Homo sapiens: one gene and its partners. The protein of the gene in region 3 binds, or shares a complex with, the protein of the main gene of each other region. Each region holds a gene or a part of one and is shown on either strand. Other genes may lie near its edges. The genes, in order: NSMCE4A, EID3, SMC5 and NSMCE2.

Region 1 (7,499 bases), on a different chromosome or scaffold from region 3:
GCACACCTGTAATCCCAGCTACTCGGGTGGCTGAAGCTGGAGAATAGCTTTAACCTGGGGGGGGCAGAGGTTGCAGTGAGCCAAGATCATGCCACTGCACTCCAGCCTGGGCGACAGGTGTAGGTGTTCCCAGACTATTTTTCATACTCTCTGTTGCCTGCAGGGTCTGATTAAGCAACCCCCTCAGCCCCGCTGTTTCCTTTTGTTGATCCCTTCTTTATCTCCCATGAGTATCCTGTGCCTGCCTGCCCCACTCCCTTCCCCTTTCATTTATTTATTTATTTTACAAACTGAGACCATCAAATCCATGAATGCCAGCATCTGTTGTTTGCTGAGCAACTCCTAGGGCTCCAATGAGTGAATAATTTTGCTCTAAAATATTGCTTTAAATACTGGAAATAGCTGAGGGGGGAATGATGTGGGGATAAAGAACTGACTAGATGCACAGTAAATATCAAGGGAGTAATTGAGTCAAGTCAAGCAAGACTAACAGTAAGGAGACTGGGAGTCCAGGCTGCGAAGGGAAGACAAAACTTAAGAGGGTAGTAGAGGGATTTAACCAGGTGAAGGAGAAACACCCGGTTCCTGAAGGTTTTGATGAGAGTTAGCAAATGCGGTAGACTAAGATGGGGAATGGTAAGGAGGCTGTGGTCAAAGAAATTGGAGAGCATATATAAAGTGATAAAAGGAGACATTTAAAGAACTAGTCATCCTCAGCAATGACTAAAAATATACGTTCTAGTCCTTTAAGAATATGAGGAACCAGCCGGGGGCGGTGGCTCATGCCTGTAATCCCAGCACTGTGGGAGGCGGAGGCAGGTGGATTACCTGAGGTCAGGAGTTCGAGACCAGCCTGGCCAACATGGCGAAACCCGTCTCTACTAAAAATACAAAAATTAGCTGGGTGTGATGGAGCACACCTGTAATCCCAGCTACTCGGGACGCTGAGGTAGGAGAATTGCTTGAACCTGGGAGGTGGAGGTTGCAGTGAGCCGAGATTGTGCTACTGCACTCCAGCCTGGGCAACAGAGACTCCATCTCAAACCTCAAAAAAAAAAAAAAAAAGGATATATTTGGCTGCATTCTCCCCTATGTTCCCACAGACCCGTCAGAGAGGGCTGGAGGGGACAGTGGTCTGGGTAGTAGTCCTGTGGCTCTATGACCAAGTACCCACATCAGGGAGTACCCCTCTGTCACCAAGCAGACAGACAGCTGCTACCAATACCACTGCCTCTGCTTTCAATTCAAACTAAGGTTATTTTTTAAAGCACCCATGGCCTAGAGTTCAGTGCTCTGGGATCTCTCTCACTCACTCACTCACACACAACACACCCCAGACTGGAGACCAGCAGGTACACTTGCAGGCTTTGCCACCTCCATTGTGTTACACGTGGACCAATAGCAGGGAGCTGAGGAAGGCAAAACAGAATGGGACAGGAAAAGAAACAGGATTTCAGAGGCTAGCTCAGTTCTGTAATTCATCCACTCAACCAATGTATACTAGGGATACGGCAGTAAACACAAGAAAAAGAAACAAGATAACACATGTAACGTTCTCAAACTTGAAGAGGCAACAGAATCAACTGGGGGCTTAACACAGACTGCGGAACCTACCCCCAAATTTTCATGTAAAGCCCTTATTATATGGTAAGTGCATAATAAAAATGGCATTATTGCTATAATGAAACGGTTCCCGAACTGGGAAAGCACTATTACAAATGTGGGAATTGTTTTATGTCAATAATTTGGCGCTTATGTAACACTAATTAAAAGTATCATAAAACACGAAATAACATATAAAATAACAAATTACCTTCATTAAACAGAGTGTTAGCCTCTTCAAGGACCTCTGTTAATTTGTCACCGGCATTCAGTATGTCCTCACGGTTTTCTATTTTTAAAAATACAAACTTTGGGAAATTTGTTCAGCATTCACTAATAAGCAGTTGACAAGGTTATCACCTGCAACAGTAAAGCCAAGCCCCGGCCCCTGCGCTCTGAGTAATTACTTCGAACATCTTTATCTTTTTAACCAAAATGACCCGGAAAAGGAGAAAGGCCACCCTACCCTTTATGCAGCATGAATTTTAAAAGGAAACCCTAGCTCCCTCTAACCTTAACCCAAAGGGCTGGACTCCGGCTGCAGCCTCTGAGTGCTCCATAACTGAGTGGTTCTCAAACTTTGCAAGCAATACACACCATCACCTGGAGGGCCACTCCACAGTTGCGCGGACCCACCCAGAGATTCGAATTCCGCGGGTCCGGGTGGGGTCCGAGAACGTGCATTTGACAGCTCTCGCGTGCCGCTGCAGCTGCAGCTGCCGCTGCGAGGCCGGGAGCCCACGCCGAGGACTGCCGGGCGCAATCAAAGCACGCGGAGTCCGCGTCCTGCCTCTCCCCACTGGCTGGCTGGGCTCGGGCGAGTCCGCGAACGGCTCTGGCCTCCAGCTTTTCCAGCCCGCCACTCGGGGACCCGCGCCAAGGTCGTACGGCTCCAGCCACAAAGTGGGAGCACTTTGTCAACAATTTAAGGTGCGGCGAGGGGCTGGCACCCGGCGCGTCTCTACTAACGCCGCGCCGGGCCTCCGCCCGGCACCTGCCTCCGGTGCCCTCCCCCCGCGCCCGGCGCAGGGCGGGGACAGCGGCCCGTCCGGGCCCGCGCCGCCCGGAGGCGCCGCCTTACGTTGGACGGAGTTGATGAGCGCCCGGTACTGATGGCGGATCTGGCGGCACAGGCCTTGGTCGGCCTCCGCCTCCAAGCTGGCCGGGTCCATCATCTCGTCCCCGGAATCCGACGGCTCTGTGTCCTCCAGGCTCGGGCGCTCTGGGGCCTCTCTGCGCTCCCGCGCAGAGCCGCGGCGGGACCTGGGCGACAAAGGGGACCGCGAGCGGGAGCGGGAGCGGGTGCGATCCCGATGCGGGTCGCGGCCCCGGCCCCGGCCCTCTGGCCCGCGGCCGCTGCTGTCCCCAGACATAGCGCCAATTCACCGTGCAACTTCGGAACGGCGGAAGTTCGCGCCAGAAACTGAAACCCCTGCTCTGCGCCAGCGCCTGCTCCCGGCGGAACGCGGCTCCCGGGCCCGCGCGAGCGCACAGCGACGCCTGTGGCTGGAGGCCGGCGACGGGCCCGGCCGGGTCTCCAAGGCGCCTGGGGGGACCGCTGGGTGCACAAGAGGGGCCTGGCGGGGATCCTTTGTTCCCTTGACAAGAGGTGTAATGAGCTCTTACTCCACACTGCAGGGCTGTGAGAATCTTGGTTTTCTGCCCCTACTTTCCCACCCTCCTGGACCTGCATCTTCCCTAGGTCCCTTTGCCTGCCCAGGACACAGCCGCAGCCTGGCACCCACATGGGCACGCAGTCCATGTGTGTTGAACGAGCTTCCTGCTGTGGAGCAGGATGAGCGCGGGATGTGGAGTCCAGACGCGGTCTGCTGCTCACCTGCGACCTCAGTTTCCCTGTGCCATCATGGCTGGGGTCGGGGGGGTGGGGAACAGGGGTGGGTGGATGAATCAAATATTTATGTGCAGCTGGCAATACCATTTTTTGTGAGGATAGCAGAACAAATTAACAGGTAAACATCCTTCTAAATATCTACAACAGAATGTCACCAGAGCACCAGGGTTTTGTTCTAGGACCCGCTGCCCCCTCACAGAAATCACTGAGAAAACCATTATTACCAAGGAAGAAGGCTTTAGTAGGGTGCTGCACTCAGGGAGTTGGAAGCTCAGTCTCAAATCCATTGCCCTGACCAACTAAAATTAAGGGTTTATACAGTTGCAGGGAAGCAATGTAACAATGTATGGGAAAAGAGGAACTCGGGAGGGGGAAGGAAGCTATGGGGATGCATGAGGGGCTTGGCATCTCATTGTCTGGAATGCGGTGATATGGCGAGTTTCAGTTTTTTGATACTTTTTGAGAGGCTCTGGAGGTCCTTTCCTGAGGAAGGAACTCAGATAAAACAAAGGTAAGTTTCAACCTTAAGACTAGAAATGATAATTTCTAAGTTTATTAAAAAAATAGTAAACAGTCTATGGGATTGTTGGGTTGATTTTAATGACAGTCTATGTTCACATTTGATTTTTTTTTTTTTTTTAAGACCTTGCTCTGCCGAGGCTGGAGTACAGTGGCACTATCTTGGCTCACTGCAACCCCATCTCCTGACCTCAAGTGATCCGCCCACCTCGGCCTCCCTAAGTACTGGGATTACAAGCATGGGCCACCAGGCACAGCCTGATTCTGATTCTCAAACTAGAAGATTCTAAGAATACCTCCTGAAGGGCCCAAGAAAGATGGAATTATGTTAAGTATACTTTGAAAGATAAATGTATGAATTTCACTCCGTGCATTTTGGATTGTATTCGAGTATTGTTTCCCAAAAGTTGTCTTTGGTGCTAAGAACACATTTTCTCAAAAGACCAATATTATAAGTTGGGTTATTACACAACCTACAAATATTCCATTTTGTGCATCATGTCTACTAAACTTAAGTTAGGCACTGTTCATTGCTGTCCAACAGCTACTACCTCACCCATCCCTGCTTATCTGTATTTCCTGAAGGGGACGTGTGTGCCTACTTCCTTAGATGAAACGTGATCACTCTAACCAGGTCACGGTAATGTCATTCCCCTTCCCCAGTGACTGGTCAAGGGTCATGTGATGCAACCTGGGTCCGTGAGATGTGAAAGGGTTTCCCAACTGGATGGAATACAAACCTTCCTGAAAAGAAAACCCTTGACCCCCTACCCCCTTTGAGATGGCTGGCATAAGAAATGGGGAACCTGCCAATTAGCGGGCATAATGGTGCGTGTCTGTAATCCCAGCTAATCGGGAGGCTGAGGCAAGAGAACTGCTTGAAGCTGGGAGGTGGAGGTTGCAGTGAGCAGAGATCGCGCCATTGCACTCCAGCCTGGGTGACAAGAATGAAACAACGTCTGAAAGAAAAAATGTGGAGCCTGCCATATTGGCAGCATCTGGTACTCACGAGGTGACAAGCATGAGGAAAGACTAGAGTGCTGGAGACACTGGAGAGCAAAGATGGACATGGCTGAATTGCTGAATCAACCACATGCCTCCAGACTCCCTGTAAAGTAAGCCATAAATCATGGTTTAAACCAGGTCATTGTTTCATAGTTGTTGCTTGTAGCTCAGTGTTCTGTAATGGAATACTTAGCGTTCTTCCAGGTGAAAGTGTGTCCAGAATTGGTGGGTTCTTGGTCTCACTGACTTCAGGAATGAAGCCGCGGACCCTCGCAGTGAGTGTTACAGTTCTTAAAGGTGATGTGTCCGGAGTTTTTTCCTTATGATGTTCAGATGTGTTCGCAGTTTCTTCTTTCTGGTGGGTTCGTGGTCTCACTCGCTCAGGAGTGAAGCTGCAGACCTTCACGGTGAGTGTTACAGCTCTTAATGCGGCGTGTCTGGAGTTGTTCGTTCCTCCCGGTGGGTTTGTGGTATTGCTGGCCTCAGAAATGAAGCTGCAGACCTTCACAGTGAGTGTTACAACTCATAAAAGCAGTGCAGACCCAAAGCGTGAACAGCAGCAAGATTTATTGCAAAGAGCGAAAAAATAAAGCTTCCACAGTGTGCAAAGTGAGCTGAGTGGGTTACTACTACTGGCTAGGGCAGCCTGCTTTTATTCTCTTATCTGGCCCCACCCACATCCTGCTGATTGGTCAATTTTACAGAGAGCCGATGGGTCTGTTTTACAGAGAGCTGATTGGTCCATTTTGACAGGGTGCTGATTGGTGCGTTTACAATCCCTGAGCTAGACACAAAAGTTCTCCACCTGTCCACTAGATTAGCTAGATACAGAGTGCTGATTGGTGTATTTACAAACCCTGAGCTAGACACAGAGTGCTGATTGGTGCATTTACAAACCTTGAGCTAGATACAGAGTGCCGATTGGTGTATTTACAATCCCTTAGCTAGACATAAACGTTCGCCAAGTCCCCACCAAATCAGCTAGACACAGAGCGCAGATTGGTGCATTTACAAACCTTGAGCTAGACACAGAGTGCTGATTGGTGCATTTACAAAGCTTGAGCTAGATACAGAGTGCTGATTGGTGTATTCACAATCTCTTAGCTAGACATAAAGGTTCTCCAAGTCCCCGCTAGACTCAGGAGCCCAGCTGGCTTCACCCAGTGGATCCCGCACCAGGGTGGCTGGTGGAGCTGCCTGCCAGTCCCTCGCCCTGCACCCCACTTCTCAGCCTTTGGGCAGTTGATGGGATCGGGCACCCTGGAGCAGGGGGCGGCGCTCATCGGGGAGGCTCGGGCCACGCTGGAGCCCACGGTGGCAGGGGGAGGCTCAGGCATGGCGGGTTGCAGGTCCTGAGTCCTGCCCTGCGGGGAGGCAGCTAAGGCCCGCCGAGAAATGGAGCACAGCGCTGGTGGGCTGGCACTGTTGGGGGACCCCGCGAACCCACCACAGCTGCGGGCCCAGGTGCTAAGCCCCTCACTGCCCAGGGCAGCCGGCCACTCCCGAGTGCGGGCCTGCCAAGCCCACGCCCACAGGGAACTCTAGCTGGCCCGCAAGCACAGCGTGCAGCCCCGGTTCCCCCCGTGCCTCTCCCTCCACACCTCCCCGCAGGCTGAGAGAGCCGGCTCTGGCCTCGGTCCCAGGAAGTGGCTCCCACAGCGCAGCGGCGGGCTGAAGGGCTCCTTAAGCCGGCCAGAGTGGGCGCTGAGGCCGAGGAGGTGCCAAGAGCGAGCGAGGGCTGCCAGCACGCTGTCACCTCTCAAAAGTTCATTCCAAGCTCCACACAAAAATACCTGAAATAGGCCAGGTGCAGTGGCTCACGCCTGTAATCCCTGCACTGTGGGAGGCCAAGGTGGGTGGATCACCCAAGGTCAGGAGTTCAAGACCAGCCTGGCCAACATGATGAAACCCCCGTCTGTACTAAAAATACGAAAAATTAGCCAGGCGTGGTGGTGGGCGCCTGTAATCCCAGCTACTCAGGAGGCTAAGGCAGGAGAATCACTTGAACCTGGGAGGCGAAGTTTGCAGTGAGCCGAGATCATGCCACTGCACTCCAGCCTGGGTGACAGGAGCAAAACTCCATCTCAAAAAACAAACAATGACAACAACAACAAAAAAACCCTGAAATAACTCATTCAATTCAAAAGTATTTGAGGGAGGGCCGGGCGCGGTGACTCATGCCTGTAATCCCAGCACTTTGGGAGGCCGAGGAGGGTGGATCATGAGGTCAAGAGATCGAGACCATCCTGGCCAACATGGTGAAACCCCATCTCTACTAAAAATACAAAAAATTAGCTGGGCATGGTGACGTGCGCCTGTAGTCTCAGCTACTCAGGAGGCTGAGGCAGGAGAATTGCTTGAACCGGGGAGGCGGAGGTTGCAGTGAGCCAAGATGGTGCACCACTGCACTCCAGCCTGGTGACAGAGTGAGACTCCATCTCTAAATAAATAAATAAATAAAAATATTTGAGGTGTACTCATAGGCTAGACACCCTACAAAGCACAGCAGGGCACACAGATA
Region 2 (5,782 bases), on a different chromosome or scaffold from region 3:
CAGGATATTAATAGATGAAGTTATTCAATTGTTGCCCAGCTTATCAAATATAATAGTTTTTCCATAAATCTAATGGTCCTCTCGTGCCTAACTTCTAACAATTCCATGCATTTGACCTTGCTATTCTCTTGCCTAGAATGCCTTTTCCTTCTTCGTGTTTCTACTCACCTTTCACCCTTAGCTGATACCTCAACTACTACAGCAGAGACACTACTTTTGCTGAGTACAATAACAGAAATTGTTTAGAATATGGATACTCACTCATAAATCCTAAGTCTTCCTTGCAATGACTTTTTTAGTCTTAATGTTGCATATTCACTGCCTTACAGACAGGTTTTTTTTTTTAACTTTTGTTTTTTACCCACTCTTTGCCCAACCTGGTTAGGAACCCTTTCTGGGATTCTCTTGGTTCCCTATGACAGAGAAAGCAACGCATCACAGAGCATCATCACTGATTTTCGTAAATTATTATGTTTTGCAAATTATCAAATATCCCTTAATTTGGTATCCAAAACTTGTTTTTATTAATAGTCTTAAAGGGCATTCAATAAAACGTTCCCATAAATATGCCAGTGAATTTGTTTTAATAACAGAAGATCATGACCTTATAAATTACTAAGAAAAATATGCTGCACAGTAAAACAATGTCTGATGTTCTTGAAAATACTTTTTCACTTTACAAGAGATACAATATGTGCTTCAGTTTACATTTTACTCTCCATCTAACTTCAGAAAAAAAACACAAAAAGGATGCTATACTAAGAAATCTTTAGTATGAGGAGTATGTAATCATAGCCTCAGAAATTTCAAAAGCTGCCACAATGTTTTTCCACTCCTGTAAAGTCAAAGATATAACTCCCTGTTTCCTGCCATGGCAACTGGAATCATTTCCCTCACCCATTTGGTTAACATTCATCGGCTCTAATATTGGCAGCCTGTCTTCATCAAGCCTTATTCTTGCAAAACCATCTCTTACAATAAAAGAAACATAAAATATATTCTCCACAGTACGAGAAAAAGAGTTTGGATCAATCACAAACTCAAAATAGGACACAGGAGTATCAGGATACTTTCGAAAGTAGGTTTGCAACAATCCCAAAATCCTTTCTACGTTTTTTTCTGTCGCTTCTGGATAACTACTCAGGTCCAACTTCTGCAACTTTGTAGGCATGTTGCCATTTTCTTCCATCTTGCGAACTTTTTTCTGGTGTTCAAGTCGGGGCTTTGGTGCAGAACGTTCTAGCTTGAATGAACCAAAAACAAAATGGAATGTCTCAGCTTTTACCATCCAGGATGTTGCTTCCTTTTCTATTGCCTTCCAGAAGGAAAGAGCTATGCTATCATCACAATCACTCAACTTGTCAGGATCGCCTTCCATCCAATTCAGACCCACGAACAGAAACAGAAAGTCACAAAATGCTAACTGATTAAAGAAGTTCATATCTGAGTTTAACTGCTTTGCCTTTTCTTTACCCAAATCAGAAGCCATAACAAGAAACCGGGCGTCGAGGGCTGCTTCTCTGGTTCGGCTCACGCCATCAAAGAGGACGTTGGCTTCCTCCAGAGCCTCGGTTAAGGAGTTGTTCGCCGAGCTCACGATGTCCTCCCGGTTCTGCCGCACGCAGTACATGAGCTGCCGGTACTGCCTGCGGATGCTGCGGCACTTCTCCTCGTCAGCGGTGAGCTCCAGGAGCTTTGGGTCTACGTCGGCCTCCCCAGAGCTGAGGTCGTCGGAGCAGCCCGCGGCCCTCACTGACACATCCATCTTCATCAGCGCTCCCTCCGCCGCCGCCTACTTCGCCGCGTACTCGCTACCGGGGATGATCACGAGCTGCTCCTCTCCTTTCTCTTCGTCTCCCTTCCGGGAAGCTTTTTCAACCAACATGCCGGCCACGGGTATCTCTGAGGTAACGGCCCTCCCAGCGTGTGGAAAGTGGCGGCAGTTAGAGCCGAGGACGCCCGCCCATGCGCACTAGCGGCCCGGCCCGGCGCGACCCGCCCCCAGCACGCTCCGCGGGAAGACAGCCCCGCCCCGGCCCGGCCCAGCCACAAGCCGAGGCGCTCGCTCATAGACCAGCGCGGCGCTCCCAACACGCGCAATGATGGGCCCTGACCTCACACGCGACTAATGCCCGCTCAGGGGACAGCTATTCTTTTTCAAAGCGTTTACCGACTGGATCACCTCACTTTAAAAAAAAACACTTTTGGACAACTTTACACAAAACTATTGAGGAGACTAAAGGTCCTGCGCTTTAAAACGCTCGCTGCCATCATATACTGCAGTGAGGTCGACCTGGTTTTGGTTTTTTGTGAACTAAATCTGGCTGGACTGTAAACCGTCGGTAAGGCCAAGGACCGTGAAAAGCAGAAACTCCATTAAGCAGGCTAAACTCTCAGTTCTTTTGCAAGGTGGTGTTTGGACTCATTATACAAATGTAAATCGGGTTAATTACTTTCACATGTCCTCTTAAAAACCAAGCCCCCTCCAATACCCATCCTGAGTATCTGTGGGATCGGGGGAGCCTCCAATATCCGTGCTAACCCCTGCAGGAAACTGGGTGCTGGGCACGGGCATTACTCAGGTGAACTTTGGTTCTCCACTACCCAGGAGTGGAAGAATAGAATGGGTAGAGATCTCTGCAAAAGAGCTATTTACTTGGAAGCTTGCCAACAGCTAAAGGCCACCGACACTGAATGGGTAGTAACTCTGAACCCTAAAAGGTGGGCAAAGCTATGAAAATTTCAGATACAGTCTAAGGATATGAAAGCTTAATCTGTAAACTGGGTGAGTAATCTGCGTGGGAAAATTTACCCATTGGATTTAATGGGGTCACTGGAAACTCAAGTGCAGTTAAAGACGTGACTCCTTATCTGTCTCACCAGCAGCAAATAGCAAAGTATACATAACAATGGGAATGGCCGGGCGCGGTGGCTCACGCCTGCAATCCCAGCACTTTGGGAGGCCGAGGCGGGCGGATCACGAGGTCAGGAGATCGAGACCATCTTGGCTAACCCGGTGAAACCCCGTCTCTACTAAAACTACAAAAAATTAGCCGGGCGCGGTGGCAGGCGCCTATAGTCCCAGCTACTCGGTAGGCTGAGGCAGAAGAATGGCGTGAACCCAGGAGGCGGAGTTTGCAGTGAGCCGAGATCGGGCCACTGCACTCCAGCCTGGGCTATAGAGCGAGACTCCGTCTCAAAAAAAAAAAAAAAAAAAAAGGGAATGAATACATCTGGTTTTTAAAGAGAACATGCACACAAACAACCCATGAGCATCAACAGCTTTTCAAACCTGCAACAGGTACACCTTAAAAAAAAAAAGACACCCACAATTGCACCTGTCCAATTGCCAGTTTCATAGCACCAGGAAGTAAATTAGCCCTACCTTCCTTTATGCATATAGACTTGTTCTATTTCTTTAGCATTAGCAGAAAGTTTTTTGTAAATGTATAAACAGCAAAATCTAGTAGTATTAAGTTACTCCAAAATCCTTATATTACCATTTGCTCCCAATTATTTTATTAACTAGGGGTAATTCAGGGAGATACGTGCATTTTTCAAAACACCATGCATTACGGTTAGTTGTACATATATATGATCCTACCCTATTAGATTGTTGGCTTCTCAAAAACAAAAGCTGCGTTTTAGATCTTCCAAACATAGCTGTTTTTACACGGAGATGCACTTATGTACTGAATGTATAACTTAAAATAGATTTAAAACTATCCCAGCATCTACTGCAAGTTATTTGGCAGCAAAGATTTAAGTTCACAGATTCGTGGAATTAATCCTACACACTGAAAGGAAAAGTTGACTGCTCTTCAGAAAAAGTTCTTATCCCTCTTCTAAAATAAAGGAAAAATGAAAGAAAGGTAAGTTGAGACCCAGGATCATTCAAGGATCGTATCTGTCCCTAGTCTGGCCAATTACAAACTAGTATTTGAACTTGTTTTAAATCTTAGGTGAAAATACAGTTAAGAATTCCAAGACCCAAATCCAAAAAAGTCTGCTTTTACAGTGAACGATATTCTTAGGAGCTTCTCACATCCACTTTAAATTCAACAAAAGCAGCCGGGCACGGTGGCTCACGCCTGTAATCCCAGCACTTTGGGAGGCTGAGGCGGGCGGATCACGAGGTCAGGAGATCAAGACCGTCCTGGCTAACACGGTGAAACCCCGTCTCTACTAAAAATACAAAAAATTAGCCGGGCGTGGTTGCAGGCGCCTGTAGTCCCAGCTACTCTGGAGGCTGAGGCAGGAGACTAGCCTGAACCCAGGAGACGGAGCTTGCAGTGAGCCAAGATCGCGCCACTGCACTCCAGCCTGGGCGACAGAGCGAGACTCCATCTCAAAAAAAAAATTCAACAAAAGCTACTTACAAAAGAACTCTAACAGATAAGCCAACCCTTCCCACCCTATGGTGCCTATTTTCTTCTGGCTCAGAGGAAGGAAAATAGGCTGACACCAATTTGCTACATAAAGACCCTTTCATCTAAGAATTTCAAAATGCCTTAGAAAACTATATTCTCCCAACCTGCTTATAAAGTATTACTAATACCATTTACAGGGATTTCTCAGGAGATAACAGCCCACACAACTTGCTCAGAGCAACAGAGCATATCGAGGCAAACATTAAGTTGTGATTTACAGTGCTGAATGCATTCTATGCTAGATCTCCAAGAACTTTATTAACATGTAACTTAGATCATCCTAAGAAAGGCAGACTTGCATTATGTTCCACCTTTAAAAATCTGCCTTTAGGCCAGGTGCGGTGGCTGACACCTGTAATCCCAGCACTTTGGGAGGCCGAGGTGGGTGGCTCACCTGAGGTCAGGAGTTTGAGACCAGCCTGATCAATATGGAGAAACCACGTCTCTACTAAAAATAGAAAATTAGCTGGGCGTGGTGGCACATGCCTGTAATCCCTGCTACTTCAACCTGGGAGGCAGAGGTTGCGGGTGAGACAAGATTGCACCATTGCACTCCAGCCTGGGCAACAAGAGCGAAACCCCGCCTCAAAAACAAAACAAAACAAAACAAATCTGCCTTTAGACATTGCTACAAAGTAAAACAATCTCAAGTTCAATAACTCTCCCCAATCATATAAAGAATGGGATTTCCATGCCGGTTAATCTTTAAGTCATTAAACAGTGATTTCCTAACCTAAGGTCCAAGTGCTACTAATAATTATTTAAATGAAGCTTAAAAAGAAGAAACTGCACTACTGATAAATTTGTCTGTGACCAGGAATAGAAAGCAAGAAGCGCACTGGTACTTCAAAGAAACCAGTGGCGTCTACCTTATTCCCGCAGTATAGACTAGTTCAGGCAACCATGAGACTGAGTTGCCTCAGAGATAATTTAGCTCCCCTCTTTCCCCTTTTTCCTCTTTCTTCGCTCAAGAGTTGCTACCCAGGGTTCAATACAGACCTCCATTTCCTTTCCTCTTTTCTTCACCCTTTTCTCCTATATTTTCAGTTCCTTTTCTAGGAGTTTAGGTTAATTCCAAGCATTCTTGAGCTCTTTCCCACAACCCATACTGCTCAACACAAACGTGATAGGGTGGATGACAAAGGTCACATGTCTCCCTGTAACCAAATAAAGGAAGAAGTCACGAGTCCACTATTTTTCTCCAGTGAGGTTTTGCTGTTAACACTTACCTATAACAAATGGATTTTTAAGAGACTTTTTGGAGCCAAAGCCAGGAATCAGTCAGGTTTGAGTCCCACACTCTAACATATACACTTATCCTAATAGCTACCTCCCTAAACTTTTCTGTTCCT
Region 3 (7,038 bases):
CCAACAGCAACAGTCTCTAAAAATCACCTAAATAATGTGCATATTTATGTGTAAAGGATTAAAATTATATATACCAAGGATGGTCAACTGGTTTCATCATAAACATCAACTCTAGTCTATCAAAAATAGCTGCCAAGAATGGCCAATTGAGAATATCCAAGCTCAAGGGAAAAGAATACTATGATGAATTATTGGTGTCATAAGGGAGAAAATAAAAAATGGTGACAGAAGTACCAAGTCCTTGTCATACATGAGATTCATCAAACTATTAGCAGTAGTTATTTATAGAATTAGGAATGATGGCAAGAAGGCTTTTATTTTCAACATTATACACTTCTACATTGTTTGCGTTTTTTAAAGACAAGCAAGTATTACTTTCAAGATCAGCAAAAAAAAAAAAACCCAGATACTTTAAATTTGTGAAAAATATTGCAACTTCATCATGACTACTTAATAGTAGTATAGTTCTATTTCATTACCTGCTATAAACTTATCATTTCCTTGATAATTTTTTAAAATAAAATTCTCACAAGTTTTTTTTTTGGGGGGGGCAGGGGGCATGGGCAGAGTCTAGCTCTGTCTCCCAGGCTGGAGTGCAGTGGCGCCATCTCGGCTCACTGCAACCTTTGCCTCCCAGGTTCCAGCAATTCTCCTGCCTCAGACTCCCCAGTAGCTGGGATTACAGGCATGTGCCACCATGCCTGGATAATTTTTCTATTTTTAGTAGAGACGGGGCTTCCTCATGTTGGTCAGGCTGGTCTCCAACTCCTGATCTCAGGTGATCTGCCCACCTCGGCCTCCCCAAAGTGCTCAGATTACAGGCATGAGCCACCATGGCTAGCCTACAATTTAAGTTTTTAAAATATATTTTTTAAACCCCTTACTTATCTGGATTAAGTATTCTTTAAATATTATTTCCAATATTTATGCCATAATACTATATTAATACTCTTTTCTAATCATCAGGAAAACATGAATATAAACTAAGAATTTTATAGGAAAAAGGAGTTTTAGCACTTTTAACACTTACAATTCAATTTCAACCATGCCTCTAGAACATCCTCTCTTCACAAAAAACCCAACCTAAGACATAAAAAAGAAAAAGTGAGCTGTGTAGTGACATTCCCAGGTTAACAATCAGAGATTTAGCAGTCATTATTATTTGTCAAATCAAGATTTTTTTCAGGTACCACTTGTATGTTCGCTCCTGTCACTTTCTAAGGTATCTCTCCCAGATCTGGGTTCCTCCATTGTTCCCTCCCACAAATAACAACAATAATAATATTAGGTAAGATTTATCGAACTCCTATGCACTCCATAGCCTCTTACCAACCTCGTGACAAAGCCAGTAAGTGCCAGAAAAACGATCTGAACCCAGGAAATCTTGGCTCCAGAGCCTGTGTACTTGTCCACTATATTAAACACCCAGACAGAAGAGAAAATGCCTGTGGGAAAACAGGTCCTATAGTATAACCACTAAGCACTCAAAGCTTCTTATTACCATTGAAGACTTCCTACAGTCGCGCAGGTTAAATATTAACAACCACGCTAATATTACCTATCCTGTTAATGATATAATTGCCACCAAGCATCGTTCTAAAAGGAGCAATATAATTGAAATTTACATGATAAAGCAGACATATCTGTGCTAGTTTCTATATGCTTATGAGTCTAAGTCCGAAAACAAAGTCTGAGCCTAAAAAAATCAGACTGGATCTTAAATCAGGCTATAAATAAGTGATAAATATTAAAAAAGGTAGAAAATATACCTCACAAATAGTAATCTTTTTAATAGTGATAATGACAGTGATGACAACAGCTAACATTTATCAAGCATTTACTATATACTGTTGTGCTAAGCACTAAACATGTATTTTTCTCATTTAATACTCATAAGCAACCTTGAAGTATACATTCATTTTATAGACAATAAAGCTGAGTCCCAGAAAGATGGGAGAAAAAAAAAAAAAAAAGCCTTATCTTGTAACCACCAAGTACAGCCTAATGCTTAAAAGTACAGGTTTTAACATCTACTATCTAGGTTCAAATCTCAACTCCACCACATACAAGTTGTTAAACATTGGACAGTTACTTAACCTCTCTGTTTCCTCACAGGAAAACCAAGGACATCCATGTAGGAATGACATCTGCTCATTAGCTTGCAAGAATTAAAAGACTTGGTACCAATGAGGAGGAAACAAAAATCAGGAGGCAGTTCTTATTATAAAGTATCCATACAGATGGTGTAGAGTATGTTTTTGTTAAATTTTTATATTAGCATTTAAACAAAAATACATTAAATATTCTTGCTGAGAACTTGGGCATCCCATAAATACATCTGTGTACCCAAAGGGCTGCAATCTGTCATCTAGGAAACACTGCACTCCACAGCCTCCCTTAAAAATCCTATCACTCAAGGATGAGATGTGTTTTCATGACAAAAATCAACATGAGAAAGTTAGTAAAAATTGTTATAGCCAATTCAGTCCTACTGTACAGCCCCTGGAGTACAATCCAACAGACGATTACAAAGAGATAGGGATTAAATGATCTGACAATTAAAAAACTATATATCAATATTCATAAAAATCTGAGTTGGTCCTTGGATGCTATCTGTTCCAACTCTCTCATCTTTGAAATGAAGAAAAACTGAAGTCCAGATAATTGCTCAAGGTCACAAGGCTAGTTATTAACAGAGAAAAGTATCTTCTACCTGATAAATGTCTTCCATATAGCACTAAACACACACACACACATTTTAAATAATTTATAATCTTAAGGGGAATTTGCTTCCATTTTGTAACCATCCATTAACTTTTAATTTTTTTTTTATTATTTCTATCTTAATAGAAATAGGATATGGTCTACGTGGTGTCCATTTTTTGAAATTTTTTGATACTTGCTTTATGACTCAGTATACAATTAACTTTTAGAAATGTTAACTTGTGCTTGAAAAGAATGCATACTCTCCAGTTGTTGAGTGCACTTTTTATAATATGTCCATTAGTTCAAGCTTAACTTCATTGTTCAAATCTTTTGTAGTCTAATTTTTTTATCTGACTGGTCTACTATTATTGATAGCTCTCCCAGTATGATTATGGATATGTTAACTGCTTGTTAGCATTCTGCAGATTTTGCCTATATATTTTGGAGCTAGATTATAATGTGAATTTGAGTTGGGAATCGAATTATCTTCCAGTGAATTAAAACTTTCGTCAGTGTTTAATGACCACTATTATCTATAAAATACTTTTTGCTCTAAAGTCTGTTTTTCCTAGTATTAATGCAGCTACATCTACTTTCTTTTGCATATTTGCCTGGCATGTATTTTTTTTCATCCTTTCACTCTCAACTTTTCTGTAGCACTTTATTTTAGATATGCTTATTAAAAACAAAAGAGAACTAAACATTGTTTCATTTCTCCATTCTAACAGACTTTATAATTTAATGAGAGTTTAGAGTTTAGATCATTTATAATCATTGTGATTATATCTGCACATATTTCTACCATCTTATTTTGTGATTTTTATTTTATTTATTTTTCTTGAGACAGAGTCTCACTCTTGTTGCCCAGGCTGGAGTGCAATGGTGCGATCTTGGCTCACTATAACCTCCGCCTCCTGGATTCAAGCAATTCTCCTGCTTCAGCCTCCCTAGTAGCTGGGATTACAGGCACCCGCCACCATGCCTGGCTAATTTTTGCAGTTTTAGTAGAGACGGGGTTTCACCATGTTGACCAGGCTGGTCTGGAACTCCTGATCATGGCCTCCCAAAGTGCTGGGATTACAGGCATGAGCTACCGCACCCAGCCAATATTTTGTCATTTTTAATGATCTCATTTTTTGTATCTGTTTCTTATCTCCTCCTCCTCCTCCTTTCTCAAGACTCCCTCTGGATTGTTCGGGCAGTATTTTTCCGCCCCCCACTCTCATGAATATGGTTAAGTGCCCTACGCAGGTGTACCATTTTTATCTTTTACACTGTATTTTTACTGTACCTTTTCTATATTTAGAGATGTTTACATAAGTACAGTGTAGGCCATTGTGTTACAATTGTCCACAGTATTCAGTACAGTAACATGCTCTACAGGAGTGTAGTCTAGGAGCAATAGGCTACACCATATAGCCTAAGTGGATAGTAGGCTAACCCATCTAGGTGTAAATATTCTCTATTATGTTCACACAATGACAAAATTGTCTAATGATGCATTTTCTCAGAATATATTCCCATCATTAAGCAACATATGACTGGATTTTGTTTCTGCCCTTTGTAAGTTTACTTCACTGTTCCACAAGCCAAGTGATGCATTTAAAAAAAAAGACATATTACATTATTTCTAGCATTTTAGGTGTAAGAGACTTGAAGAATCCTCTAGTATTATGATCCAAAATACTTCTAGAAATGAAAATCTCCTTCTAGCTTCTCTACCTGCCAAATTTATTCCTTGTATTCATGCACTATTAAGTTTGCTATACCCAAGGAACTGAGGTGTAGAAATTGATGTTACTAAAAGCAATTAATAGGTTTGAAATTTCTTAAAAAGTAATTATATTAACTCACCTTATCTGCTCGTCCCATGAAAGCAGGTTTTCCAGCTAAACCAAGGCAAATGGCACACACAATGCTCGACTTCCCTGTTCCATTGGCTCCAACGATCATATTCAAGTGGGGTCCAGGAGATACTTCACAAATATCATATGTTCTGAATTATAAAGAGATGAAATTATTAAGGAGAGATACAAAACCACTTTTCCTTGCTTTACATTATCTATGAGCTTCCTCAAATTCCTTTAAAAACTAGCTAACCTTACAAATTTAATGTTTTTTTATAGGTTTTTAATAAACAACTTTAGAAAGAATACCAATAGAAGAAATGAAAAGGCAGTAATGCATAACTAAAGAATATAATTTCATATACTTTTTTCAAAAGTCTGCTGAAGAAAGTGAAGTTTGATACCTTGTTCTTTTTTAATAATTACAAAACACTGGACACTATATCAAAGATACTACACAAAATAACTTTAAAACAAATTTTATAGGAGACGCCACGGCTTACCTTGAATCTGTGAATTTTACATTCATATTTCTTTTAAATTATAATGCTTAATGGTTATTCATATTTTAATATTTCAAACAATCTAAGCAGATTTTTAATTACAAAACTGAAGATATATCTCAACCCAAAGGTTTCATTTTATTAACTTTTAAAAATTATTTTCCAAGCCAGGCACCATGGTATGTGCCTATAGTCCCAGCTACCAGGGAGCCTGAGGCCAGGGTACTACTTGAGCCTAGGAGGTCAAAGCCAGCCTAGGCATCATAGAGAGACACTGCCCTACAAAACAAAAGTTGAAAGCTGACTAGCACTCTAATTATAGTTAGCATCTAATCTTTATTAGTTGCTAGGGACAGTTATGACAAAATGTGAAGCAAACTCTGACTCAGACATTCTTTTAACTCGCCTTTGAATACTCTGAATTTGAACCCATAAAGTGTCCTTTGTCCACAGCATTTCAGTTAGCTCTCAGGTAGCTGCCAACTAATTCCTCATGAATAAATGCTTAGCCTGCTATTCATCTGCTAAGTATATAAATAACCAAGCACACACATTAATATTTTAAGAAATTAATGATTTTGAAATGTCGGGTGGTAATAAAAATACAGGTGGCAAAGACGTATTTTCTGGCAGGTTTGCTAATCCCACACCTCTACACAGCATCTACTACTTTATCTTTTTAGCTGTTTTGTTCTGCTAGCAGCTGGGTTTCAAAAGAGCCCTTTATTATGGTTACAATAAAACTAGTTTGGGAACTTCAGACATGTAGGAAATTACCTGACATGGAACTTCTTACGCTCAACACATGAAGCCCCACTTGGATTTCCTGTTGTGAAATCTCTGTGTAAATGTTATACTAAAACGATGAAACTGGTATTTAAGAAAACAGAACAGGGAAAAGCATGAGAATTTCTGGCCTATAAAATACGCATCGATATTACAAATAGGGACAGTTGCCAAAAACAAAGCCTCTGCAATTTTTTTTTTTTTGGCGGGGGTAGGCGGGGGATTTTTCTTGCCTTTAGCTACCCAGATCAAGTGTCTGCACTGTTTAAAATCAATCTTCTGATTCTACGATGTATTTATTGGGAATTCCCTTATCATGAGTTTCCTTTCCTCTGAGCTCCCTCTGAAAGAGCTATTGGTAAAGACCCACCCTCTTATCATTCCATATACTTCACGAGGTATCTCATGTATTCTCTATGGCCTCAATGATTCCTTTTTTTCTCCAAGTCTTTGCATACTATCTACATGCTGAAAGCAGTCCAGATGACCTCTATATGCAATGGTCACCTCAATAACGCTATTTGAATGTCCCATAACAGTCATCTTAAACTTAACACATTTAAAACGAAATCCACCATCTTTCCCATCCAAAACCACTCTTGTGGTCTCTTAGTGAATGGTATTATCATTCATGCCATTGACCAAATCAGAAACCTAGGCATTAGTTTTGCATCCTCTTTGGTTCTTTCATCTCTTTTGACTCCACCCAAACCACCACTCCATCATCCAATCAATCACCAAGTGATGCTGGTAGAATTGTAAATCTGATGTCACTTGTTAAAAAAGAAAAATTAAGGAAAAACCCATCACAGCCGAGTTTCATCTTTTTCTACTTTTTATCTCCTTTCCCTATTCTCTCCTTAGACCTCTAAATTCTACCTATAATGTACTTCTTTCAGTTTTGTGACTATAATTCCTTATTGCTCTGAAGTATTTGCACATGTTATTCCTTCAGCCTCCAAGTGTCTTCCTCCACTCCCAACTCCATTTGACTTGGTTCACTCACTACTCTCTTCCAGGCCATTTACATTCTCTAACTACCCATCTTATTTCCTTGCTAATTCTCTAAGCGCATCTTTCTCTACCTCATGCCTAAAACTCAAAATCCCCTCATTAAAATAAACAGCATCTCACCAACCTCTGCACTTCCAGCTACCTTCTCTTTCTTCTCTTTGCATCCGGCCTGCAAAGTTTTC
Region 4 (7,038 bases), on a different chromosome or scaffold from region 3:
AACACAATGGACCTGGAACTCCAGTCTAAAAAAACAAACATAACTAGAACAATCTAGGAGGAAGAAATGAGACAATGTGTCATGGACATTTCTAAACAAAGCGAACCCAGAAATACTCATCACTCTAATGTGCATCATGGGAAATGATACGACTTCATGCTTCATCAGAAACTTCTGGAGTTGGTTTCAAGAAGGCCCTGAGTTCTAATCTACTGCTGCCCAAATGCACCTGGCCTTCAGAACCCTGCCCACCCCGCCCACAAGTTCCCATGAGCCTCCACTCCTTATCACTCTTCCTGGCTCCTGGCTATATTTTAGACTGCTTTTTTAGGGGTCTTCTTCCGCTGATTGATCCTCTCATTGGTCAACAAAGTGTTTTTTGAGGGTTGGCACCAGGGTGCTAAGGCATCACAGTGAGCAGAACGAAGTCGGGCTCTGGCCTTGTGGAGATCACAGGCGAGGTGCGGGTCCTGCCTTGCTGGCTCTCTGCTGGTGAATGCATTTGTTCCAGAGCTGCATCTGTGACGGTAGTTGAGCGGGTTGACTCGTCTATACTGATAACCTCCCAATCCACATCGATAGTTCTGAGTCCTCCCCTGACTGCAAAACTCACACTTGCTGCACTTCCTGGACACTTCCACGGGGCTGTATTGCTGGGACCTTGCATTTAGGATGACCTGAGCTGAGTCTATCACAATCCTCCAATAAGAGTGTTCCTCTCTCATGCCTTCTCTGGAGGCTAATGAGCAAATGACAGTATTAGACACCCAGATGAGAAATGTCAGCCACCCCTCGCTGCTTCTTCCTTTCTCTTACATTCAGTCAGTCGTCAAATGTCGTTAACTGTACCTCCACAATCACTCTTGTATCTCTATACTCTAATTTTCTATAACTTAAACCACTGTAAAAGCATCCTAACTGACTTTTTTTTGCCTCATGCCTCCTTAATCCATCTCTGCATTGCTATTGGAGTAACTTCCTAAACTCCAGGTTGGCTCATCTTACTCCTTTAAAACTGTCCTCGTCTCCCATGCCTATAGAGCAATGGTGGAAAAAAACGAAGAGGATGTTGATAGTGGCTCAAGTTTGAAGATGATGATGGGATAATTTTACTGAGCCCTACTGTGTACCAGCTACTTTAAGTACTTTGCATGTATCTTATTTAAATTTCAAATATGCCAATGAGGTGATTACAACGATTGTCATTCATTTATGGATAAGGAAACTAATGAAAGCATGCCATGGCTGGGCGCGATGGCTCATGCCTGTAATCCCAACACTTTGGGAGGCCGAAGCGGGCAGATCACCTGAGCTCGGGAGTTTGAGACCAGCCTGGCCAACATGGAGAAACCCCATCTCTACTAAAAATACAAAATTAGCTGGGCGTGGTGGTGCATGCCTGTAATACCAGCTATTCAGGAGGCTGAGGCAGGAGAATCACTTGAACCTGGGAGACGGAGGTTGTGGTAAGCTGAGATCACGCCATTGCACTCCAGCCTGGGCAAAAAGAGGGAAACTCAGTCTCAAAAAAAAAAAAAAAAAAAAGAGAAAGAGCAAGAAAGCATGCCATTTAACAACCCAGAATCCTCCCTCTTTTTTTTTTTTTTTTGGAGACAGAGTATCACTCTGTGACCCAGGCTGGGTGCAGTGGCATGATCTCGGCTCACTGCAAGCTCCGCCTCCCGGGTTCATGCCATTCTCCTGCCTCAGCCACCCCAGTAGCTGGGACTGTAGGCGCCTGCCACCACGCCCGGCTAATTTTTTTTTATTTTTAGTAGAGTCGGGGTTTCACCGTGTTAGCCAGGATGGTCTCTATCTCCTGACCTCGTGATCCACCCGCCTCGGCCTCCCAAAGTGCTGGAATTACAGGTGTGAGCCACCGCGCCTGGCCGAAATCTGACATTTCAACTGTTAACTCAAAAACTCAAAACAGATCAAAATGTACTAAGAATGTCTACATTTTGCAACCATTAGGCAGCAAAGCCACTATTCTTCTAGAATACATAGGATAAGTTATTTGCCTGAATGACCATCAAGATATCTTTAGTCTCCAATATATTATCTCTAAGTCCACACCCAGATGAGGAGTGCTGGGGAATTCCAATTCTAGGTCTGGACCAGCAAATTTCTGGGCAATGGAGAAGCAAGCCACACATCAAAGGGACTGTTATCAGAAGTCAATTGAGAACTAGTCACACCTGCAATTCCATTCCTGCAACAAATCCATGATAAGAGCACAAGAAATGCCAAACGAAGTCAATGCCAGTCAGTCTGGCTAACTCAGGATTCTATGTTATTACAGGAACAGAGCATGGTCCTCCGTGGTCATGGAAGAAGGGGAAGGAAGGTGAGATATATATATGTGTGTGTGTGTATATTATATATATTTAAAGATAAATAATATATGATATACATATAAAACAATATATAACATATAATATATATTATGTCTATTTATAAAGATTCTGCAAAACTTCCAATTAAAAAAATAATTTATCATTCATGAGTTAGCCATGAATTTACCTAAACCTTTTTTTTTTTTTGAGACAGAGTCTAGCTCTGTTGCCCAGGTTGGAATGCAGTGGCACAATCTCGGCTCACTGCAACCTCTGCCTCCTGGGTTCAAGAGATTATCCTGCCTCAGCCTCCCGAGTAGCTGGGATTACAGGCACCTGCCACCAAGCCTGGCTAATTTTTGTATTTTTAGTAGAGATGGGGTTTCACCATGTTGGCCAGGCTGGTCTTGAACTCCTGACCTCAGGTGATCTGCCCACCTCGGCTTCCCAAAGTGCTAGGATTACAGGCATGAGCCACCCTGCCTGGCCTTATTCTGTTTTGAAGGTGTGGTTGAAGTTCCCTCAGCTTCTTCCTGAACAGATTACTAATTTTTCCCTCATGTATTGTTTTTCCAGAAAGCCCACTTCCATGTTTACAGTATTCGGGAGGTGAACGGAATTTAGAAGAGACATTGAAGTGCCTCTTCCTCTAGCGTGAACACGCCACCTCTGAGTAACTACCACTAGGGAAGGCTCCACTTCCTTCCCTGCGTCCACTCACTAGGCCTTTTTCTTCCGCTTTTGCCTGGACTCAATCATGCGAACAATGGCGTCCTCTTCATAGGTGTGGCCACACACTTTATTTTTCACTGGCTTCTTCATTTCCTCCTGTAATCAAGGAGATGTTGGGCTTTCAGGAATGATAATGATCAACTTCCAGTAGCTGTTTCGTCCTAGTCCTGAGCTTTCTATGTTTAACTTCCCATTCTCATGGCTTTACATAATTACTAGGCTTTAGATAAGGAAATGCAGGGAATCCAGTGGCAGTACTGTCACTTGGCCTGTAGGCCATGACTTTAGTCCCGGATCCTTCAGGGCATGATTGACTGACAGCTCTCTCCAGCCCAAGAACCTCCCGTGGATACTCTTCAACCCCCAGCACTTTTCTTTACTCCCTCCTTAACTCCCTAAGTGAAATCAAACCAGAAAGCAAACAGGAACCTTTCTGCCTCTGTGAAGTGAATCGTGTTTCTTTCAGGGGAAGTAGGAGGAAGCGGTACCTTTGTAATGGGGCAGGTGAAGTTGGTCTGACTTTGGGTCACAATTATATCTTCATCCACTCCTTCTGTTCCGTCAGCTTCTCTGTCAGCTTGAAGACCACCTAGAGGAAAATGGAGAGTTGATAAGCCTCTCTGGTCTAACGTCAAAGAAAAGGAAGGAATGGAAGGAAGGGAGGTGAAGAGTTTCTGGGGGAGCATTTGCTGTTGGCCCCCATGTAAGGACTGGATGCATAGAAACTCTTCTGCTTTTCAGAGAACACTACGGGGTACCTCATTCTGACTATTTTTGATAAGGAAACTGAGGCTCAGAGCAGTTAAAAAGAATCTTTTTTAAAGTTATAGAGAAAGTGACCAAGGGTGTGGCTTCAGAGTCAGAGAACCGACCTGGTGATCTCTTTCTTGTCCAGTGGTGAGACGCTGGGCTAGCAAGGTGCCCTTTTTTAAAGCCTCTGCTTTACAGCCTTGTGGCAAAGATTAAAAGAGATGAAGAATGTGGTATGCTTTGCACAGCTCATGGTACAAAGCAATAATCAATAAACAGTCATTACAATTAGGTAGTGCAGGGCTTCTCAAACTTTTTAGTTATAGGTATGAACTCTTTTAAGCTTTTTCTATGTGGGTTATATTTATCAATATTTAACATATTAGACATTAAGATTAAGGAATTTAAAATTCATTAAAAAATAACAATAAGGCCGGTTGCGGTGGCTCACGCCTTTAATCCCAGCACTTTGGGAGGCTGAGGTGGGCGGATCACGAGGTCAAGAGATCGAGACCATCCTGGCCAACATGGTGAAACCCCATCTCTACCAAAACTACAAAAATTAGCTGGGCATGGTGGCATGTGCCTGTAGTCCCAGCTATTTGGGAGGCTAGGGCAGGAGAATCGCTTGAACCCAGAAGTTGGAGGTTGCAGTGGGCCAAGATCCTGCCATTTCACTCCAGTCTGGTGACAGAGCGAGACTCTGTCTCAAAAAAAAAAAAAAAAAAAAACCAAAAAATTAAAAGTAACAGTAATAATCCCACTACGTGTTACCATAAACATTTTAAAAGTTAAAATTATATTTCCAGAACACCCCCCCCCATACACACAGACATACATAATGAGAAGAATGGCATTGTTTTCCATTTTTATAAATATCTTGAATGTCTGGCTTCATAGCAGCCAGTTGGATTTGGATATCTGCGTATGCATTCAATCTGTCACAATATCACATATCCTGTAGTCTCTGGGAAAATTCACTCATGAAAAGAATGAGAGTGAAACAGGCAGATGAGATCATACTATTATTATAAAGACAGTTTTGACCTTATGGACACTCTGAAAGACCCTTGGAGCACCCTAGAGATCCCTGGCCTGCACTTTGAGAACTGCTGAGTGATAGTGACAGGACTGGCTTTGAACAGAGCATGAGCTGCTTCTGAAACTGATGTTCTTTGAGTTACATCCCATTGGCCCCCAACTGAAAAACCAAACCAAACCAAAAACAGATGATAGACAACATTTGAATGGGATGATGGGAGTATCTCACATGAAAGCCATTCTCTCTGAAGAAAAGATACTTGTAATTTTGCACAGAAGTTAAAGATCAATAGCTTTTTTTTTTTTTTTTTTTTTTTGAGATGGAGTCTCGCTCTGTCACCCAGGCTGGAGTGCAATGGCGCGATCTTGGCTCACTGCAACCTCCGCCTCCCAGGTTCAAGTGATTCTCCTGCCTCAGCCTCCTGAGTAGCTGGGAGTATAGGTGCACGACACCATGCCTGGCTAATTTTTGTATTTTTAGTAGAGATGGGGTTTCACCATATTGGCCAGGCTGGTCTTGAACTCCTGACCTCAGGTGATCTGCCCGCCTTGGCCTCCCAGAGTGCTGGGATTACAGGCATGAGCCACGGGGCCCAGCCAAAAGATCAGTAGCTTTCTAAACATGTTGATGGTGTAGTCCTTTCTCCTTCCTTCTCCTTTCCCTTTCCCTTCTCTACTCTTTTCTCCCTTCCCTTCCTTCTTTAATTTTGGCAAAATAATACAGACATAAAAATGGCTTTCCTCAATGTGTGAGAGGAAGCCCTTGTTTCTGGTTCAGATGGTGTGGCATACCTTTCGGTTCCATAGAACTGATGACTGTGGGCCATCACCTAGGCCAGATGAGGTGTTTGTTTGCAAAGGCACTACAGGTTGAGTATCCCTTATCCGAAATGCTTGGGACCAGAAGTGTTTCGGATTTCGGACTTTGAAATATTTGCATAAGCATGATGAAATATCTTGGGGGATGGGACCCAAGACTAAACATGAATTTCATTTATGTTTCATATAAAGCTTACACACATAGCCTGAAGCTAATTTTATGCAGCATTTTTAACACTCATGTGTACTTGTTGCATGAGGCCAGATGTGGAATTTTCTGCTTGTGGCGTCATGTAGGTGCTCAAAAAGTTTTGGATTTTGGAGCATTGTGGGTTTTGGATTTTGGGATTAGGGATGCTCAAGCTGTACTGAGGGGCAGGGAAAGGGCTGCAGAGCTCTTGTTCAAGGTAACCTGGTGAATTAATTGCAACACAGGGATTCTGCCTCCAATTACTTTGTTTTTCTTAGAGAGTCACCTTCTTGGAGTAGACTGGTATATTTGTATGCCAGCTTGCTGTCCCCTAAACCAGCTTTTATTCTTTGAAGAAGGCAGTGAAGATCTCAGGGCTTGGGAATAACCAGTCAGAGCATTTTTAACCACTGGGCATTAAGGTGCAGTGCCTCGGGGCTTCCAGCTTTTCAGAGAGCTAAACAAACGTCTGAGACCTTAAAAACCATTGGTTGGCTTCAAAACAGAATAACAATAGTACTGAAATTACTAAATGTTAAAGGTCTATGCAAATGTGAAGTTAACTTCATTAATTGTTGATCCGGTAATCGAAAATACATAATTTGGAAGTAATATGTAGGGCTGGATTTATTTCTTCATAAACTTCATAAAAATTTCCCAGTATGGTAAGATAATTGCTGAAACTAATAGTCAATTACAAATTAAATCAGTTACTGGTAGCCAACCTATTTCCAAAGCAAAATTATACAAATATTTTTTCAAAATTTTGACAGCAAGGTTGGGTGCGGTGGCTCACGCCTGTAATCCCAGCACTTTGGGAGGCTGAGGTGGGCAGATCACCTGAGGTCAGGAGTTCGAGACCAGCCTAACCAACATGGTGAAACCCCTTCTCTACTAAAAATACAAAAATTAGCTGGGCGTGGTGGTGGGCGCCTATAACCTGAGCTACTCAGGAAGCTGAGGCAGGAGAATTGCTTGAACCTGGGAGGTGGAGATTGCAGTGAGCAGAGATCATGCCATTGCACTCCAGCCTGAGTGACAGAGCAAGACTCCGTCTCAAAAAAAAACAACAAATTGACAGCAATAAAATTATATATATATATATTTTTTATTTTTTAGTTTTTGAGACGGAGTCTTGCCCTTGTCGCCCAGGCTGGAGTGCAATGGCAC

What was found.
Region 1: SMC5 (region 3) and NSMCE4A share a complex: the UniProt entries of both Homo sapiens proteins name them as parts of the SMC5-SMC6 complex.
Region 2: SMC5 (region 3) and EID3 share a complex: the UniProt entries of both Homo sapiens proteins name them as parts of the SMC5-SMC6 complex.
Region 4: SMC5 (region 3) and NSMCE2 share a complex: the UniProt entries of both Homo sapiens proteins name them as parts of the SMC5-SMC6 complex.

What each region holds. Positions count from the first base shown.
Region 1 is NC_000010.11:121,972,191-121,979,689, forward strand, and holds the start of NSMCE4A (non-structural maintenance of chromosomes element 4 homolog A), read right to left. Parts: upstream 3,028-7,499; 5' UTR 2,976-3,027; coding exon 2,684-2,975; exon of another isoform or gene 2,677-2,683; intron 2,616-2,676; exon of another isoform or gene 2,116-2,615; intron 1,892-2,115; coding exon 1,814-1,891; intron 1,640-1,813; exon of another isoform or gene 1,333-1,639; intron 1-1,332. UniProt on the Homo sapiens protein: Component of the SMC5-SMC6 complex, a complex involved in DNA double-strand breaks by homologous recombination. The complex may promote sister chromatid homologous recombination by recruiting the SMC1-SMC3 cohesin complex to double-strand breaks.
Region 2 is NC_000012.12:104,299,924-104,305,705, reverse strand, and holds EID3 (EP300-interacting inhibitor of differentiation 3), read right to left. Parts: upstream 1,968-5,782; 5' UTR 1,772-1,967; coding exon 770-1,771; 3' UTR 501-769; downstream 1-500. UniProt on the Homo sapiens protein: Tissue-specific component of the SMC5-SMC6 complex, a complex involved in repair of DNA double-strand breaks by homologous recombination.
Region 3 is NC_000009.12:70,261,968-70,269,005, reverse strand, and holds part of SMC5 (structural maintenance of chromosomes protein 5), read right to left. Parts: intron 4,703-7,038; coding exon 4,561-4,702; intron 1,084-4,560; coding exon 1,031-1,083; intron 388-1,030; exon of another isoform or gene 1-387. UniProt on the Homo sapiens protein: Core component of the SMC5-SMC6 complex, a complex involved in repair of DNA double-strand breaks by homologous recombination.
Region 4 is NC_000008.11:125,353,838-125,360,875, reverse strand, and holds part of NSMCE2 (E3 SUMO-protein ligase NSE2), read right to left. Parts: intron 3,658-7,038; coding exon 3,557-3,657; intron 3,165-3,556; coding exon 3,058-3,164; intron 1-3,057. UniProt on the Homo sapiens protein: E3 SUMO-protein ligase component of the SMC5-SMC6 complex, a complex involved in DNA double-strand break repair by homologous recombination. Is not be required for the stability of the complex.